Linked DNA regions of Homo sapiens: all the other regions are linked to region 2. Evidence: fine-mapped expression QTL. A gene starts in region 2. Each other region holds a variant in brackets. All regions are shown on one strand. Distances are between the middles of the regions. Region 1 overlaps FBXO17 (F-box protein 17). Region 2 holds the start of FBXO17 (F-box protein 17). Region 3 holds the start of LOC124904713 (a long non-coding RNA gene).

The links. PIP is the estimated chance that this variant, and not a neighbour inherited with it, causes the effect.
Region 1: its variant is fine-mapped to the expression of FBXO17 in lung (TOPMed, PIP 0.96).
Region 3: its variant is fine-mapped to the expression of FBXO17 in nucleus accumbens (GTEx, PIP 0.92).

The regions. Positions count from the first base shown.
Region 1 is chr19:38,943,804-38,948,803 of GRCh38, reverse strand. It overlaps FBXO17 (F-box protein 17), which reads left to right. Exons shown (of 6, transcript NM_024907.7): 3 at 126-237; 4 at 2,237-2,332; 5 at 3,700-3,835. Among named protein-coding and RNA genes, the nearest start is that of MRPS12, 15 kb to the right of the region's middle. The variant C/T (reference allele first, on the strand shown) is at 1,936.
Region 2 is chr19:38,971,748-38,978,323 of GRCh38, reverse strand. FBXO17 (F-box protein 17) reads left to right here and starts at 2,582. Exons shown (of 6, transcript NM_024907.7): 1 at 2,582-2,738. RefSeq lists enhancers at 36-135, 586-635.
Region 3 is chr19:38,935,811-38,942,386 of GRCh38, reverse strand. It overlaps FBXO17 (F-box protein 17), which reads left to right. Exons shown (of 6, transcript NM_024907.7): 6 at 1-986. LOC124904713 (a long non-coding RNA gene) reads left to right here and starts at 989. Exons shown (of 2, transcript XR_007067253.1): 1 at 989-1,173; 2 at 5,535-6,576. The variant T/C (reference allele first, on the strand shown) is at 2,700.

The sequences.
Region 1 (5,000 bases), 29 kb after region 2:
AGAAACCAGGGAGGATTGGAGCACAAGAGGGAGAGGCTGGTGGACAGCACAAGCTGGCTGGTTGCGGGGTCTCTTCTGGGCAGGCTGGCAGGTGAACCATATGTTCAACTCTTGTTTTCCCACAGAGGGCTTCAGAGGCTGGGAGGTGGAGCATGGCGGGAACGGCTGGGCCATAGAAAAGAACCTAACACCGGTGCCTGGGGCTCCTTCGCAGACCTGCTTCGTGACCTCTTTCGAGTGAGTGGCCCAAGTGAGAGGCCCCGATCCCTGGGGCAAAGGCCCCAAAGAAAGGGACCCTACCCCCCACACTGTCCTCATCGTCACCTTCACCCTCTCCTTCCCCCATTTATTTATTCATTGATTCATTCCATCAATCAACAAATACTTGTTGAGGGTACTGTTTCATATGCCAGGGATACAAGGAAAGATCAGGAAGGTTAGCAACCACAGGCAGCAATGCTCTGTGCATCATCGCCTGCAGTTTGTGAGACAACAGCAAGACAGCTTTGATCTAAAGACAGGGTTTTGGGCCGGGCACGGTGGCTCTCGCCTGTAATCCCAGCACTTTGAGAGCCCGAGGTGGGCAGATCACTTTAGGTCAGGAGTGCGAGACCAGCCTGGCCAACAGGGGGAAACCCCGTCTCTACTAAAAAGACAAAAATTAGCTGGACGTGGAGGCTGAGGCAGGAGAATCGCTTGAACCCAGGAGGCAAATGTTGCAGTGAGCCGAGATTGCACCACTGCACTCCAGCCTGGGCGACAGAATGAGACTCTGTCTCAAAAAAAAAAAAAAAGGGAACATGGCAGATTAGCACCCAAGATGGAGTCGCTTTTGCCTCCACAAGGAGTTACTCTATACTAGACACTTTACATATAATTCTGGCAACAACCCTGTGACATAGATACTATTATTGCCCCCACTTTATAACAGGAAACTGAAGGCCGGGCACGGTGGCTCATAGCTGTAATCCCAGCACTTTGGGAGGCCGAAGTGGGAGGATCTCTTGAGCCCAGGAGTTTGAGGTTGCAGTGAGCCTAGGATCATGCCACTGCACTCCAGCCTGGCAACAGAATAAGACCTTGACTCAAAAGAAAAGAAAAAATGAGAATCTGTTCTCCATGGAATGATGGTGCCACCTCTACAGTTTATGAAGTTTCTGTGTATACCTACGTCTGTCCCTGGCACTCTGTTTTTTTTGTTTTTGTTTTTGTTTTTTGAGATAGAGTCTCATTTTGTTGCCCAGTCTAGAGTGCAGTGGCGCAATCTTGGCTCACTGCAGCCTCTGCCTCCCTGGGTTCCAATGATTCTCCTGCCTCAGCCTCCCGAATAGCTGTGACTACAGAGGTGCGCCACCATGCCTGGCTAATTTTTGTATTTTTTGTAGAGAAGAGGTTTCACCATATTGACCAGGCTCGTCTCTAACTCCCGACCTCCGGTGATCCGCCTGCCTCGGGCTCTCAAAGTGCTGGGATTACAGGTCTAAGCCACCGCGCTCAGCCGGTTCCTGGCACTTTGTTCTATTCCATTGCTCAACTTACCCATCCTTCCACCAATACTGCACAATTTATGTTATTATGGCACATTCTAGTTTGAGGAGAAGGACTGTTTACAAAGTTGTAGGCAGGAGCCCCTGAGCTAGTAACAGTTAGGAAAGGAACGTTACCACCCCTAGACTGCTAGAGGTGAGGGGAGGAAACAGTTACTGGAAAATGAGGAGAGAGTGCCATGGAGATTTGCTTTTTCCTTGGGGGACAAGGCAGTCCCTTGAGAAGGACCTAAGAGGATAAATACCCTGATTTTAGTCACCTCTTTCACTTCCATCCCCTGCCGGAGCATCCCATTGGCTGATCCAACAGGAAGCAATGGGTGACAGAGACAAGGCTGTCCAGCTTTAGACCCGGGGCCCTCACACTTTAGGAGGCCACAGAGCTCCC[C/T]GCTCACATGTCTAGTATGTGGCCTTCATTTGTAGTCATGTCCTGTCCCACAAAGATGAGGGTCAGGCTTTCATAGAGGTCAGCTGCCTGGAGCCCGCAGCAGGGTGGAGAATGGCAAAGGGACTCCAAGAGGCCAAGGAGAGATGTATAGCCCATCATGCATCTTCAGGTCTGCTAGAGCAAACCCTGAGGGCTGCTTTAGAGAGGGTTATCAAGGGAGACTTCTTGGAGGAGGTGGCTTCTGACTGTGACTTGAATGCCAGGACTGTTTGCCCTGCCCCCTGCCATCTCTCCTTCCCAGATGGTGCTCCAAGAGGCAGCTTGTGGACCTGGTGATGGAAGGGGTGTGGCAGGAGCTGCTGGACAGCGCCCAGATTGAGATCTGTGTGGCTGACTGGTGAGTGAGGAGCGGCACCCTGCCCCAGAGCAGCAGCAGGCTTGGCAGCGGCTCTGCAACAGGGGCTCATTTCCCGCCCCATCAACCCCACGGGTAGCGGCTGTCACTGTGCACCCTTTGTGATGAGGCTGAGAGGGGAAGTGATGCAGAGCCGGGGAAGGTAGAGCTTTGGAGAAGCCAGAGCCCCCACTCTGCACTCCTGCCCACCCTCATCCCAGCAGGCTGGGGTGGTCCACAGGGGGCCACTGACTGGCTTGATACCCCTCTGAAACGAGACACCTCCCCTGACCACCTTGTGGATGCCCAGGGTCTCTGAAGGGGTGGGAGCATGGTGCCCTGTGAGCTGAGGCTCAGGGAGCATAGTTGGGACAGGACTGGCTTCAGAGCCTACAGGCTTAGGATGAATGCCTTCTTCCCAAAACACCCAGGTTCTGCCCCAAAGCATTCCAGCTCCTCCTTCAGGCTGTGGCTCTTCCATAGAAAATCTGGTCTCTTCCCTGGGGCTCTGGCTCTTCCCTGAAGTCATCAGGCACCTGCCCTGCATTGTGGTTCTTCCCCAGAGCATCCTTTCCCGTCCCCCAACTACCTACCCAAAAGCCTCCAGAATCAACCGCAGGACCACCCAGGCTCCTCCCCCAGGACCACCCAGGCTCCTCCCCTGCTCTGGCTCCACCCCAGGACCACCCAGACTCCTCCCCCAGGCTCTGGCTCCACCCCAGGGTCACCCAGGCTTCTCCTCCAGGTTCTGGTTCCACCCCAGGACCACCCAGGCTCCTCCCCCAGGACCACCCAGGCCCCTCCCCCAGGCTCTGGTTCCACCCCAGGACCACCCAGGCTCCTCCCCCAGGACCACCCAGGCTCCTCCCCTGCTCTGGCTCCACCCCAGGACCACCCAGACTCCTCCCCCAGGACCACCCAGGCCCCTCCCCGAGGCTCTGGCTCCACCCCAGGACCACCCAGATTCCTCCCCCAGGACCACCCAGGCCCCTCCCCCAGGCTCTGGCTCCACTCCAGGACCACCCAGACTCCTCCCCCAGGACCACCCAGGACCCTCCCCCAGGCTCTGGCTCCACCCCAGGGTCACCCAGGCTCCTCCCCCAGGCTCTGGCTCCACCCCAGGACCACCCAGGCTCCTCCCCCAGGCTCTGGCTCCTCCCCAGGACCACCCAGGCTCCTCCGCCAGGCTCTGGTTCCACCCCAGAACCACCAAGGCTCCTCCCCTAGAGGTTCCCAGGCCAGGACGTCTCCAAATGTGGTCCAGATGTGCAGGACCTTCATCAAGATGGAGCCAGCCCTCAGCCTCCCGCCCCGAAACCCAGAGAGCTGGCTGGGTGACGGGGGCATAGAGGCTGACTGCTGCCTGGCAGGTGGGGCGCTCGAGAGAACTGCGGCTGCGTCTACCAGCTCCGGGTCCGCCTTCTGGATGTGTATGAAAAGGAAGTGGTCAAGTTCTCAGCCTCACCTGACCCGGTCCTTCAGTGGACTGAGAGGGGCTGCCGACAGGTGGGTCCAGACTAGCTTCCAGCTCCCCCCGACCCGCTAAAGGCACACACGCCCAGCCTCTCGTCTGCTCGGTTTCCCTTCTGTCACTCCTGGATATCTATAATCATAACAGCTAAGAAGTATCGAGCCCTTCTTACATCCCAAGCCCTGTGTCAAGACGCTTACATATCGATTCATTTCATTAGCAAAACCCCTTAATGTTCAACAAACACTGATTGAGCACCTACTGTGTGCTGGGCACCACTCTATGTGCTGGAAATGCAGCAGTGAAGCAAAATCCTATCTCCATTCTAGAGTTGAGGAAACAGAGGCACAGACAGGGAGGTTATGTGACTGGTCCAGTGCAGAGCTGGACTCAAGCCCAATCTGGCACCAAGACTATGCTGTCTTGATCCTCACACCTCAGTTACCAAAGTAAATGTTTCGGCTGGGCACAGTGGCTCATACCTGTAATCCCACCACTTTAGGAGGCCAAGATGGGAGGACAGCTTGAGGGCAGGAGTTTGAGGCCAGCCTGGGCAATATAGCGAGACCTCCATCTCTACAAAGAAATTAAAAATTAGACGGGCATGGTGACTTGCACCTGCAGTCTCAGCTACTCAGGAGGCTGAGGTGGGAGGATGGTTGGAGCCCAGTTGGTCCCACTGCACTCCAGCCAGGGCAACAGACTGAGACGCTAACTAAAAATAATAATAATAATAATAATAATAATGAGTCAGATCAGAAGTCTCACTGCTTGTAATGCTCCTGTGGCTACATCTCACAGTAAAAGCCAAAGTTATGCAGCCACGGAAAAGAAATGAAGCATGAATTCACACTGCAACGTGGATAAACTGAAAACATGATGCTGAAAGAGGCCAGACATGAAATGACAAATACTGTATGATTCCACATATATGAAATGTACACTAAGAAGATTGGCGACTGCCAGGGGCTGGGGGAGGGAGGTCTTGGAAATGACAGCTCATGGATGCAGAGTTTTTTCCTGGGGTGATGGGAATTAGGTAGTGGTGATGGCTGCATAATATCGTGAATCAACTAAAAACCACTGAATTGTACACTTTAAAAAATGAATTTTGGGCCGGGTGTGGTGGCTCATGCCTGTAATCTCAGCACTTTGGGAGGTCAAGGCGGACAGATCACTTGAGGGCAGGAGTTCAACACC
Region 2 (6,576 bases):
GGCACATCAGCCTGCACCATGTGAGGAGACACCAGGAACAAATGTGACTCCGAGGGAAAGCACGACCAAGACCATAAATAAAACCTCTCTTCCTGTTCAGATCCAAGCACATGGACAGGCTCTGAGTGACAACCGCATTCAGTGGGCTGCCCTGCTAGAGGTTCCCCAGGCCTCTCCACCGGTCCTGAATCATCAGCCTTCCTGAAACTGGCTCTGACCTAAAGCCGAAACCTCAGCAGGTCTGAGGCGGTTACCAGGGCTCCTTATATTGGGTGAGTCAAATCACACTCCCTGCAGGAAAGGAGTCTAAAAACTAGAATACCAATAATAAAGAAACAAGGCCAGATGCAGTGGCTTATGCCTGTAATCCCAGCATTTTGGGAGGCCAAGGCAGGCGGATTGTTGAGCTAATGAGTTCGAGACCAGCCTGGGCAGCATGGCGAAACCTCATCTCTACAAAAAATACAAAGATTAGCCGGGCATGGTGGCGTGCCCCTGTAGTCCCAGCTACTTGAGGGGCTGAGGTGGGAGGATCACTTGAGCCCAGGAGATCAAGGCTGCAGTGAGCTGTGATCATGCCACTGCACTCCAGCCTGGGTAACAGAGCCAGACGCTGACTCAAAAATAAATCAATAAATGAAAAATAAACAATTCCACTTTTTGTAATAATAACAATAAAGAAACAAGCTCAAGTCCATGGGTATCAGCACACTGGTGACACGTGTCAGCACAAGTATGCATTAGCTTTGTAATCATTATAATAACACACAATTGCTTTGTCTATTTGTTAAGGTATTTACAACAATCGCAAACATCTGACATTAGATTTGGGAAGGCTTTAAGCGATGGCTTTTGGAAGGAATGTTGAAATGATTAGGGAAATCTGGTTTCGAGGAAGACTTAGAGGAACAACTGTTTAATGTTTTATCAAAGAACAAAGATTAGTTAGTATTCTTGTCCCTACATATGCAAGCCCCTGGATGTCAGAGAATTGAGCAGCATGAAGAAATGGCTACTTACGGCCAGGCGTGGTAGCTCACGCTTGTAATCCCAGTACTTTGGGAGGCCAAGACAGGCAGATCACCTGAGGTCAAGAGTTCGAGACCAGCCTGGCCAACATGGCCAAACCCCCTCTCTACTAAAAATACAAAAATTAGCCAGGCGTGGTGGCGCGTTCCTGTAATCCCAGCTACTCGGGAGGCTGAGGCACAAGAATTGCTTGAGCCCGGGAGGTGGAGCTTGCAGTGAGCCAAGATCTAGCCACTGCACTCCAGCCTGGGCAACAGAGCGAGACTCCGTCTCAAAAAACTAAAATAAAATAAATAAACCCCCCAAAATCCGGAATGCAAAACAAACCTAGGCCTACGCCTTTCACATAAGGAACTGCGTGTGGATCTGTGCTAAAAACTCTACCAATAATACAGTAATTTTACAACCCACAGCAGAAAATGCTTTCAAAGGCGGTTGTTACAAATAATGTAATAGTAGTCAAATTAGCGTTGGCTCTGAGTCCAGCACTGTGCTCCGCGCTGCACACGCAGTCTCACGCCGTCCTCACGATGGCGCTGTGGGGCCTGGCTGAGGTTTCTAGGGGAAGGGGCTTTAGGGAATCCAGGCTCTCTGGCTGTGTGACCCCTCCAAGCTAGCGACTTGGACTACGTGCAACAGACCAGGTATCTCTGGACTTCAGTTTCTCGGGAGAGGCGTCCATGAGGAGGTCATGCATACAAAGCATTTAGCACAGTGGCAGATATGAGCCAGTGGGCCTGGAGAATGATTTACCAGCGTGGGGGAGGCCTGGCTTCCAGAAAACTAGCTCTGGGGTGTCTGAGATCAGTCACCTTGAGGTCCCTGGTGCAATCTAGGGCCATCAGAAGGGACTGCAAAGACCCAAGGGCAGAGGTAAAGGGAGAAAATGGGTCGCGGCCCCAGCCTGACCGAAACTGAACCTCCGGATTAATTCAGTTGTCTATAGCTGGGGGGATGGGGAGGACAGGGGAGTCCTAAGGTGGAAGGGTACAGGTTTGTCATTGCCACAGAGAGTGCGTGTGGTGAAGGGATTTAATTTAAGATCAGCCCCGGGCTTCTGAGAATCTGGCCCTGGGAAGCAACGTAAATACAAGAAAATCCCTGTGGCCAGGGACTTTGATCCAAGTGTTTCGAATCAGGCCCTGGGTCGGGCTCACAGCTAAGCGGTTTACCAACCGTGGACCTGTGCAGGATCCCATGGATGTGAGGGGTGGAGACGGCCGCAAGCAGGAGGCCAGGACCAGAAGGAAACGGAATTTGGGTGGGGGTGGGGAGCTAGGACCAGTCCCCCCGCGGGGGCGTCTTGGGGATGTGGAACTCGCACACCCAGAGGAGGTGGCTCTCCCAGGGGTGGGCCCCGGATCCTAGGGGCGCGGGGCTGGCCCCGCTCCCCGCTGGCCTCGCGGCAACTGGGCCTCCCCCTCGCTGCACGCAGCCCTCCAAGCTCCCCCGCCCGCCCGCCCTCGCTCCCGCTGGGCCCCGCAGCCGGAGGAGGGGCGGCCTCCCGCCCCCGCCCGCTGGATCTCAGAGTCGCCGCCCCCGGCGCCGGGCTGCAGCCGCCACGCCCCGGGAGAGGACCGACCGCCCAGACCGCCGGTCCCGGGGCCCCCTGGGCCACGCCGATCACGGGGAGCCCCTCGACTGCCTCCCAGAACAAAGTGGGAAAGGGAAGCTTAGCCCGCCGCTGCCGCCTCCGAGCAGCCCGCCAGGTGAGCGCCGGGACAGGTAGGGGACCCAGGTCGGGACCCAAGCGTCAGTCCCGTTCTCGCCCACAGCTGGGGCGCCCCGGGAAGGATTCCCGCGCCAGGCCCTGCCCGGAGGGGCGGGTCCCTGGGAGTCCCATAACCCGCAGCGTCGCTTTCCCGGGCCCTCCCTCGGCCTGAGGCTCCTTTAAACCCAAAGTTATACAAATGCACGTTAGAAAGCCCTAAATCTGGAAGGGCTTTGCTTTGAACGTGGGTGTTCGAACGCCCAGGCCTCTCCATCCCTGCGCTCGTCCGCGGAGGCCACCATCCAAAACCCCTGCCAAACGCTGCAAACCAACACGTGGGCGCAACAGCCCGGGGAAGGCCAGGCCGCTTTTTACCGTTGCTGGATTTTCTGTCTTCTGGCCGTCAGTCCCTTCGCAGAATCTGTGAATCAGAAGCCTTGGAGGGCGGTTTCTCGATTTAGCAACTTGGGCACATTATGTGTTTCGCTGCGGCCCCAACCCTCAATTTAAATTTTGTTCTGCCAAGTTACTTTTGCAATGTTCAGTGATATGTTCGAAAGCTCTGTATACTGCCTCTTCAACTTTAGACAGCGTCTATTTACTCCATATTTTGAAAGACAAATATTATGGGAGTCTAGTTGTAAAATAAATAATACTTCTTTAAAAATGTTCCAGTAATACACGACACTCAGACACGTAGGACAGGACAGAGCTTTGCATGGAAAACAACACGCCTTTAAACAACAACCTCTCCCTCACCACCGCCCCCAACCCCTGTCGGCCAAATACATTTTTTTGTTAACTACATTACTTTTCAAAAATGGCAAGAAGTAACTCGTGATCGCTGGTGCCTCGTTTTTAACTTTTTCCACTTTTTATTCCTCTGGTATCTATTTCCAAATCTTTACAGCATATTTTTGGATTGTTATTTCTTATTTCATCAACTTTTAGACAACGCGTCCATGGATCCCTTGCTAAAAATAGGAGACAACTTTGATCATCTCCGTGGTTTTCCTCCTCCCTATATAATCACCTCCCTGTATAGTCAGGACATTACTTTCGGCTTCTCTATTGGCTACTTTTCTAACATAAAATAATTTTTTTAACTTGTATTTATTGTTCCATTAAATATACCTAGTATCTGTTGACTCTCTTTTTGTAAGGCTTGGCTAAGGAGCTTCTTTTTAAAAAATATATTTTTAGGCCGGGCGTGCGCGGTGGCTCACGCTTGTAATCCCAGCACTCTGGGAGGCCGAGGCGGGCGGATCACCTGAGGTCAGGAATTCAAGACCAGCCTGGCCAACATGAACCCCGTCTCTACTAAAAGTACAAAAATTAGCCAGGCGTGGTGGTAGGCGCCTGTAATCCCAGCTACTCAGGAGGCTGAGGAAGGAGAATCGCTTGAACCCTGGAGGTGGAGGTTGCAGTGAGCCAAGATTGTGCCATTGCACTCCAGCCTGGGTGACAAGAGCAAGACTCTGTCTCAAAAAAAAAAAAACTATATATGTACATATATATATGTGTGTATATATATGTGTATATATATATATGTATATATATATATACACATATATATTTGAGACCCTGTCTCAAATCAAATCAAATCAAATCAAAACTGTGTTGCCCAGGCTGGAGTACAGTGTCGTAATCATGGCTCACTGCAGCCTCAACCTCCTGGGCTCAAGAGATCCTCCCACCTCAGCCTCCTGAGTAACTAGGGCTACAGGTGCACGCCCCCCCACCAAACCCCACTAATTTTTTTATTTTTTGTGGATACGGGGTTTTGCCGTGTTACCCAGGCTGGTCTCGAACTCCTGGGCTCAAGCCATCTGCTCGTCTTGGCCATCAAAAGTCCTGGGATTACAGGTGTGAGCCACCGGCGCCCAAACAAAAAGATATATTTTTAAAATAACATTTTTGTATTTATGTAAATATTAATTTCTTCAATTCTAATCAAATTCTACATATGGCTTAGAAATCAAATAGAAAAGTTTGCCTTAATTTTTTCTATAATAAAAGTATGTAATCTCTTTTAGAAGAATGGAAAACGAAGTGTTTTAGATTAAAAGAGATGAGTGAGACCTGCCACCCCCACTGGTGTTTGAGCCCCCACGGGGATCTTGTTAGGAGGAAACAGCCACAGAAGACCTGCTAGAGACAGCAGGGGAAATTGTTCACGGAGTGGGTATTGATGGCAGAATGAATTTTTGAGGCAGAATCTCTCTCTGTCGCCCAGGCTGGAGTGCAGTGGCACAATCTCGGCTCACTGCAACCTCCACCTCCTGGGTTCAAGCGATTCTCCTGCCTCAGCCTCCCTAGTAGCTGGGATTACAAGCATGTGCCACCACGCCTGGCTAATTTTTTTGTATTTTTAGTAGAGATGGGGTTTCACCGTGTTGGTCAGCCTGGTCTCGAACTCCTGACCTCGTGATCCACCCGCGTTGGCCTCCCAAAGTGCTGGAATTACAAGCGTGAGCCACCACGCCTGGCCAGGTTGCCCTTAATCTTAGGAGATTCATTAGGAAGTACTGAAGAGTAGTTCATCAAGGCCGCCAGGCCGGTGACTTATGCCTGTAATGCCAGCACTTTGGGAGGCTGAGGAGTTCGAGACCAGCCTGGCCAACATGTTGAAACCCTGTCTCGACAAAAATAAAAATTTAGCAGGGCATGATGGCGGGTACCTGTAATCCCAGCTACTTAGGAGGCTGAGGCGGGAGAATAGCTTGAACCCAGGAGGTGGAGCTTGCAGTGAGCCGAGATCGCGCCATTGCACCCCAGCCTGGGCGACAAGAGCAAAACTCTGTCCAAAAAGAAAAGAGAGAGTGCAAATATGGCAAAATATGGAGCAGATAGTGATGTTCATTTGATTACTCTTTCAACTTGTCTATAGAATGAAATTTCATAGTAAAAATTGGGAGAAAATAAAGTAAGATTATTTTGAAACAAAGAAAGAGACAGAAGACATGTATACAGTAGCACAAACTATGGAGTCCAATATACCAAGATTCAAATCCCAGCAGGTTTTTTTTTTTTTTCTTTGAGATGGGGTCTCACTCTGTCGCCCAGGCTGCAGTGCAGTGGCACAATCACAGCTCACTGCAACCTTGACCTCCTGGGTTCAAGCAATTCTCCTGCCTCAGCTTCCTGAGTAGCTGGGATTACAGGTGCGTGCCACCACACCCAGCTAATTTTTATATTTTTAGTAGAGATGGGGTTTCATCATGTTGGCCAGGCTGGTCTCGAACTCCTGACCTCAGGTGATCCACCTGCCTTGGCCTCCCAGAGTGCTGGGGATAACAGGTGTGAGTGAGCCACTGCTCCCGGCCTAGTTTTTTTGTTTGTTTTTTTCTATCATTCTTTTCCCTTGGTCCCAGCTTATAAAACCCACCATTCTCTTACTACCCAGTGGGGGTCTCAGTCTGTTTTGTAAAATGGAGGCTGCCCCATTCAAGAATCTTGAATAAAAGCCCATTAGATCTATAACTAAATTTGTTGTAATTTTGTCTTTTGACATGGCTCTGTTGCTTCTTTGTTGGGTGACCTTGGGCACGTTGCTGTCATCCTCCAAGCCTCAGTTTCCCCATGTGCCTACTTCATGGGGTGGTTTGAGGCTTCTGTGAGATTTTGTAAAGCAATTCCCACATGCCTAGAGCAAAGTAAGTGCTCAGTTAACAGTAGCTGTTAGTATTCTGTGAAGGCATCTCCTTAACTATTATAGCCTGTTCACCTATGACTAACACTGTCAACATAACTGCTGCAGCTGGGCCCTTTTTCTTTTCTTCTTTTTTTTTTTTTAATTGGCACAGGGTTTCACTCTCACCCAGGCTGGAGTGCAG
Region 3 (6,576 bases), 36 kb after region 2:
AGGAGGCTTGGGTGGGAGGATTGCCTGAGACCAGGAGGTTGAGGCTGCAGTGAGCCGTGATTTCACCACCACTCCAGCCTGGGTGAGAAAGCAAGACCCTATATCAATGAAAAAAAAAAAAAAAAAGACCAGCTTTGCAGCCAGAAGCCAGAGGATACCCAGGGACAGTAGGGCTCCCAGGTGGCTGGTTCTCAGCACACCTTCCATGAATCTGCTTGCTGCTGCTTCAGTGTGGTGGCCATCATGCTGTGTGACAAACCAGGCTGTTCACAGCTTCCTCAGCCCCCCAGAAGGGGAGTGTCAGGAAGAGACATTTAGTTCATTTGCCTGCAAATTTTCTTCTCCTGCAAGGATCTCGGTGGACTCAGTCACAAAACAAAGGCTAAACCAGGATTTATAAGAGAGGGCTTATAAATCCCTCTGCCGACGCAGGGAGCAGAGACTTGCCGGCATGTTTTGGGGGTAATGATCGTGGGCAGGGAGCAGAGGTCCGCTGAGGCAGTCTGTCCTTGAGACTAACAAAGTCATCTGCTGTTTGGGGAAATCTCTGGTGTTGGGAACAGGCCCCCAAATCTGGCCATAAACTGGCCCCAAAACTGGCCATAAACAAAATATCTGCAGCACTGTGACATGTTTGTGATGGCCATGACCCCCACCCTGAAGGTTGTGGGTTTACTGGAACGAGGGCGAGGAACACCTGGCCCACCCAGGGCGGAAAACCGCTTAAAGGGGTTCCTGAACCACAAACCATAGCATAAGTGATCTGTGCCTTAACGACATGTTCCTGCTGCAGATAACTAGCCAGACCCATCCCTTTATTTCAGCCCATCCCTTTATTTCCTGTAAGAAATGTTTTTAGTTAATCTATAATCTATAGAAATAATGCTTATCACTGGCTTGCTGTCAATAAATATGTGGGTAAATCTCTGTTCAAGGCTCTCAGCTCTGAAGGCCGTGAGACCCCTGATTTCCCACTCCACACCCTATATTTCTGTGTATGTGTCTTTAATTCCTCTAGCACCGCTGGGTTAGGGTCTCCACAACCGAGCTGGTCTCGGCAAGTGGCACCCATACGTGGGGGCTCGAACCCAGGTCGAAGAGTCACTGGAGCGACGGTTGGAGAACGTGGAACTAAGCTGGAGGACACCCGAGTACTCTTAAGCAATCCCCATGGTGAGTAAGAAGGGGAGCTCGGAAGCATCAGGGTAGCAATGGGACAGGTGTGGGTTCTGGTTCATTCCACCTTGGAACCTTTTCACACTGATGAGGAGCAGGGAGAGTGTAATGAAGTAATGGAAGAGGTAACAGAGCAGGTTTGTTTGCCAGCTAAAGCTAAAGTGGCAAAGGAGGAAGAGGTTCATCCCTACCCTTCTGCATCCCCTCCTTAGTGTGAAGAAAAAGAGTGACCTGACCCTCCAGATCTTTCTTTTCCAGAGGACACTGGGTGAAAAGTAGTTGCCCCAGTGACTGTTTGGGCAGTGCCTCAAGCGACTGCTCTCAGTTCCATTCAGGCAGGAATTCAGCAAGCTAGAAGAGAGGGTGATTTAGAGGCTTGGCAGTTCCCTGTTAGAATACATCCCCCAGATCAACAGGGAAATATTACAGCTACATTTGAGCCTTTTCCTTTTAAATTACTCAAAGAATTTAAACAAGCTATTAATCAATATGGACCAGGTTCTCCTTTTGTAACGGGACTGTTAAAGAATGTTGCTGTTTCCAGTCGGATGATTCCTCCTGACTGGGACGCTCTTACTTGAGCTTGTCTAACTCCTGCTCAGTTCTTACAATTTAAAACTTGGTGGGCAGATGAAGCTTCCATTCAGGCTCCTCGCAACACCCAGGCCCAACCTCAAATTGATATAACTGCACACCAACTTTTGGGGGTCGGCGGCTGGGCTGGTTTAGATGCACAGGTGGTCATGCAGGATGATGCCATAGAGCAGCTTAGAGGAGTGTGCATCAGAGCTTGGGAAAAAATCACTTCAGGTGGAGAACAGTACCCTTCCTTTGGTGCTGTAAAACAGGGACCAAAAGAACCGTACACAGATTTTATAGCTCGGTTACAGGAGTATCTTAAAAAGGTGATTGCAGATTCGGCTGCTCAGGATATAGTGTTGCGGTTATTAGCTTTTGACAATGCTAATCTCAATTGCCAGGCTGCTCTGTGACCTATTAGAGGGAAAGCACATTTAGTTGATTATATCAAGGCCTGAGATGGTATCAGAGGTAATCTGCATAAAGCTACTTTGTTGGCACAGGCAATGGCAGGACTGAAAGTGGATAAAGGAAATACTCCATTTCCTGGAGCTTGTTTCAACTGTGGGAAGCATGGGCACACTAAAAAAGAATGCAGAAAAAAATCAGCAAGTCAGGCCGGCAGACAGGGGAAAAAAGAAAACTGCTGAGCCTGATATATGTCCAAAATGTAAAAAAAGGAAAACATTGGGCTAATCAGTGTCACTCTAAGTTTGATAAAGATGGGAACCCGATTTCGGGAAATGCCATGAGGGGCCCATCCCGGGCCCTGTTCGAAACCAGGGGCATTTCCGCCTCAGGCCACTCCTTCACCCCTGTACAATGTCTGTCCCCTGCCACAGCCAGTAATGCCACAGTAGATTTATGCTGCACAAAAGCTGTGAGCCTTCTGCCTGAGGAACCCCCGCAAAAAGTTCCAACAGGGGTCTGTGGACCCTTGCCAG[T/C]GGGGACAATAGGATTACTTCTAGGGAGGTGTAGTTTAAATTTAAAGGGGGTACAAGTACAAACAGGAGTCACTGATTCAGATTACAATGGAGAAATTCAAATTGTTTTTTCTACTTCTGTTCCCTGGAAAGCAGAGCCAGGAGAGCGCATAGCACAGCTCCTGAATGTGCCATATGTGGGAATGGGAAAAAGTGAAATTAAACGAACAGGAGGATTTGGAAGCACAAATAAACAAGGCAAAACAGCTTATTGGGTGAATCAAATTACTGATAAACGTCCTACCTGTGAAATAACTATTCAGGGAAAGAAATATAAAGGTTTGGTAGATACAGGAGCGGACATTTCATTTCTCTATAGCAATGGCCGTCCACATGGCCAATTCAACCTGCTCAGTTTAACATAGTTGGAGTTGGTAAAGCCCCTGAAGTATATCAAAGTAGTTATATTTTGCATTGTGAAGGGCCTGATGGACAACCTGGGACTATTCAACCAAAACTTCTGTACCTATAAATTTATGGGGAAGATATTTATTACAACAATGCGGAGCACAAGTTCTAATTCCAGAACAATTATATAGCCCTCAAAGTCAACATATGATGCATGAAATGGGGTATGTCCCTAGTATGGGACTAGGAAAAAATTTACAAGGTTTGAAGGAACCGCTTCAAGCAGAAATACAAGTTTCCGCCAAGGTTTAGGATATTATTTTTGATGGCGGCCATTGTTAAGCCTCCAGAACCTATACCTTTAAAATGGTTAACAGATAAGCCAATTTGGATAGAACAATGGCCGCTAAGTAAAGAGAAACTGAAGGCTTTAGAGGAATTAGTTACTGAATAATTAGAAAACGGACACATAGCTCCAACATTTTCCCCTTGGAATTCTCCAGTTTTCGTAATTAAGAAAAGAATCAGATAAACGGAGAATGTTAACTGACTTAAGAGCCATTAATTCAGTTATACAACCCATGGGTACATTACAGCCAGGATTGCCTTCTCCTGCTATGATTCCAAAAAATTGGCCTTTAATAGTCATAGATTTAAAAGACTGTTTCTTTACTATCCCCTTAGCTGAGCAAGACTGTGAACAGTTTGCATTTACAATTCCTGCAGTAAACAACCTGCAGCCTGCTAAGCGTTTTCACTGGAAAGTATTGCCACAAGGCATGTTAAACAGCCCAACAATTTGCCAGACTTATGTAGGGCAAGCAATTGAACCTACTCGTTAAAAGTTTTCACAGTGTTACATTATTCATTATATGGATGATATACTTTGTGCTGCCCCCACTCGAGAAGTATTACTCCAATGTTATGATCACTTACAAAATTCGATTTCTTGCGCTGGTTTAATTATAGCTCCTGACAAAATTCAGACTACTACTCCTTACTCCTACTTGGGGACCTTAGTAAATGACACTACCATTGTGCCACAGAAAGCAACCATACATAGGAATCAATTGAAAACATTAAAGGACTTTCAAAAATTACTAGGGGACATTAATTGGATACGACCTGCTCTAGGCATTCCTACCTATGCCATGAGTAATCTATTTTCTATCCTTAGAGGAGATCCTGGTCTCACAAGCCCTCGGTAATTAACAAGAGAAGCTGAGGCAGAGCTGCGGCTAATCGAAAAGCAAGTCCATAAAGCTCAAATAAATAGATTAGATCCAGAGAAGACTCTAGATTTGCTAATTTTTCCAACTCAGCATTCACCTACTGGTGTTATTGTTCAAGAGTGAGATCTTGTAGAGTGGCTTTTTCTTCCACATACTAATTCACGGACTCTAACTCCTTATTTGGATCAAATTGCTACTATGATAGGAAATGGGAGAACTCGGATTGTTAAATTACATGGATATGATCCTGGAAAAATTATTATCCCTCTCACAAAGGCACAAATACAGCAAGCTTTTATAAATAGTCTTACTTGGCAAACCAATTAAGCTGACTTTGTGGGTATTCTCGATAACCATTTTCCTAAACAAAACTGTTTTAATTTTTGAAATTAACTAATTGGATTCTCCCTAAAATAACTAAATTTAAACCAATTGAAGGTGCTGAAAATGTTTTTACAGATGGGTCTAGTAATGGTAAAGCTTCTTATTCTGGCTCAAAAAGTAAAGTTTTTCAGATGCCCTATACTTCAGCTCAAAAAGTGGAGCCTGTAGCTGTAATTGAGGTAGTGACTGCTTTTCATATGCCTATTAATGTGATTTCTGACTCTTCATACGTGATTCATTCCACACAATTAACTGAAAATGCTCAGTTACAATTTCCTGCAGATGAACAACTGATGATTTTATTTACCCAACTGCAAACAGCAGTTAGGAGTAGAATGCACCCTTTTTACATCACTCACATTAGGGCTCATACACCTCTTCCAGGCGTCACCTTTTGCAGTGTTTTGCAGTGATGGGCATTCCAGCTTCTATTAAAACAGATAAAGCCCCAGGCTACACTAGCCGAGCTCTAGCTACATTTTTCTCTATACGGAATATTAAACACATTACTGGTATCCCATATAATTCTCAAGGACAAGCCATAGTGGAAAGAATGAATCTCTCCCTGAAACAGCAGTTGCAAAAGCAAAAAAAAGGGGGGAAAACAAGGACTACGGGACACCCCATATGCAACTGAATCTAGCATTGTTAACTTTAAATTTTTTGAGCCTGCCTAAAGGCCAGATCCTATCAGTAGCTGAACAGCATCTACAGAAACCAGCTGCAAAGACAGAAGCAGAACAACTAGTTTGGTGGAGAGATCCAATAACAAAAAGTTAGGAAATAGGTAAAATAATAACTTGGGGTAGAGGTTATGCTTGTGTTTCTCCAGGACTGACTCAACAGCCGATTTGGATACCATCAAGACACCTGAAACCTTATCATGAGCCAGATGCTGAGGAAGAGATTCCGGGAGGAAACTGAGGACCCCCCCCACCCCCGGTTGCAGCCATGTCGAGACTGACGCTGAGGAAGACCCCAACTGTCACGAGCAACACCTGTCAAACACAGCCACCCACCTGGAGACAGATCAAGAAGCTGTCACAGATGGTGGAAGAAAACCTGAGGAAAGTGGGACAACCAGTCGCAATGAGTAATTTAATGGTAGCTATGATAGCGATGATCACCACTGCCATGAGTATTCCTTCAATAAGGGCTGACACAGAGGACAATTATACTTATTGGGCATATTTATCAATCTTGGCTGGCAATAATGCCTGGATGTAATCACTCTATGACACAGTTATACAAGCTTTCTGATCTCATAATAAATCTGCTCCTATAATTGAGGCATACTGCCCTCAAAAACATATTTGTAAACAGGATTGGACCCAGTTAGCAAAAATGAACGTACTTGTTTAGGAAGATTGCTTTGCAGAACAGGCAGAGGTGCTGCACAACAATTCCTATGGAATCATTATTAATTGGTCACCTATGGGGATGTTTAGCTTGAACTGCACCTCTCAGTCTGCATGCCATGGCCACACTGTGATCAGCTCATCTGAACAAAATGGTCAGATGATAGAAATGGTAAGAAATACAGCAAGAGTTCCTATTATCTGGAACCATGGCAGTATAGTGGCACCTCAGCCTCAAATGATATGGCCTGCTCTAGGAGCTAAACATAAGCATTTGTGGAAACTGTTAATAGCTCTTAATAAAATCAAAATTTGGGAAAGAATAAAAAAGCATCTAGAAGGCCACTCTACAAACTTGTATTTGGATATTGCAAAATTGAAAGAACAAATATTTAAAGTATCCCAGGCACACGTGAACTTAATGCCAGGAACTGGAGTGCTTGAAGGAGCTGCAGACAGATTAGCAGCTAGTAACCCATTCAAATGGATAAAAACACTTGGAGGCTCTGTGATTTC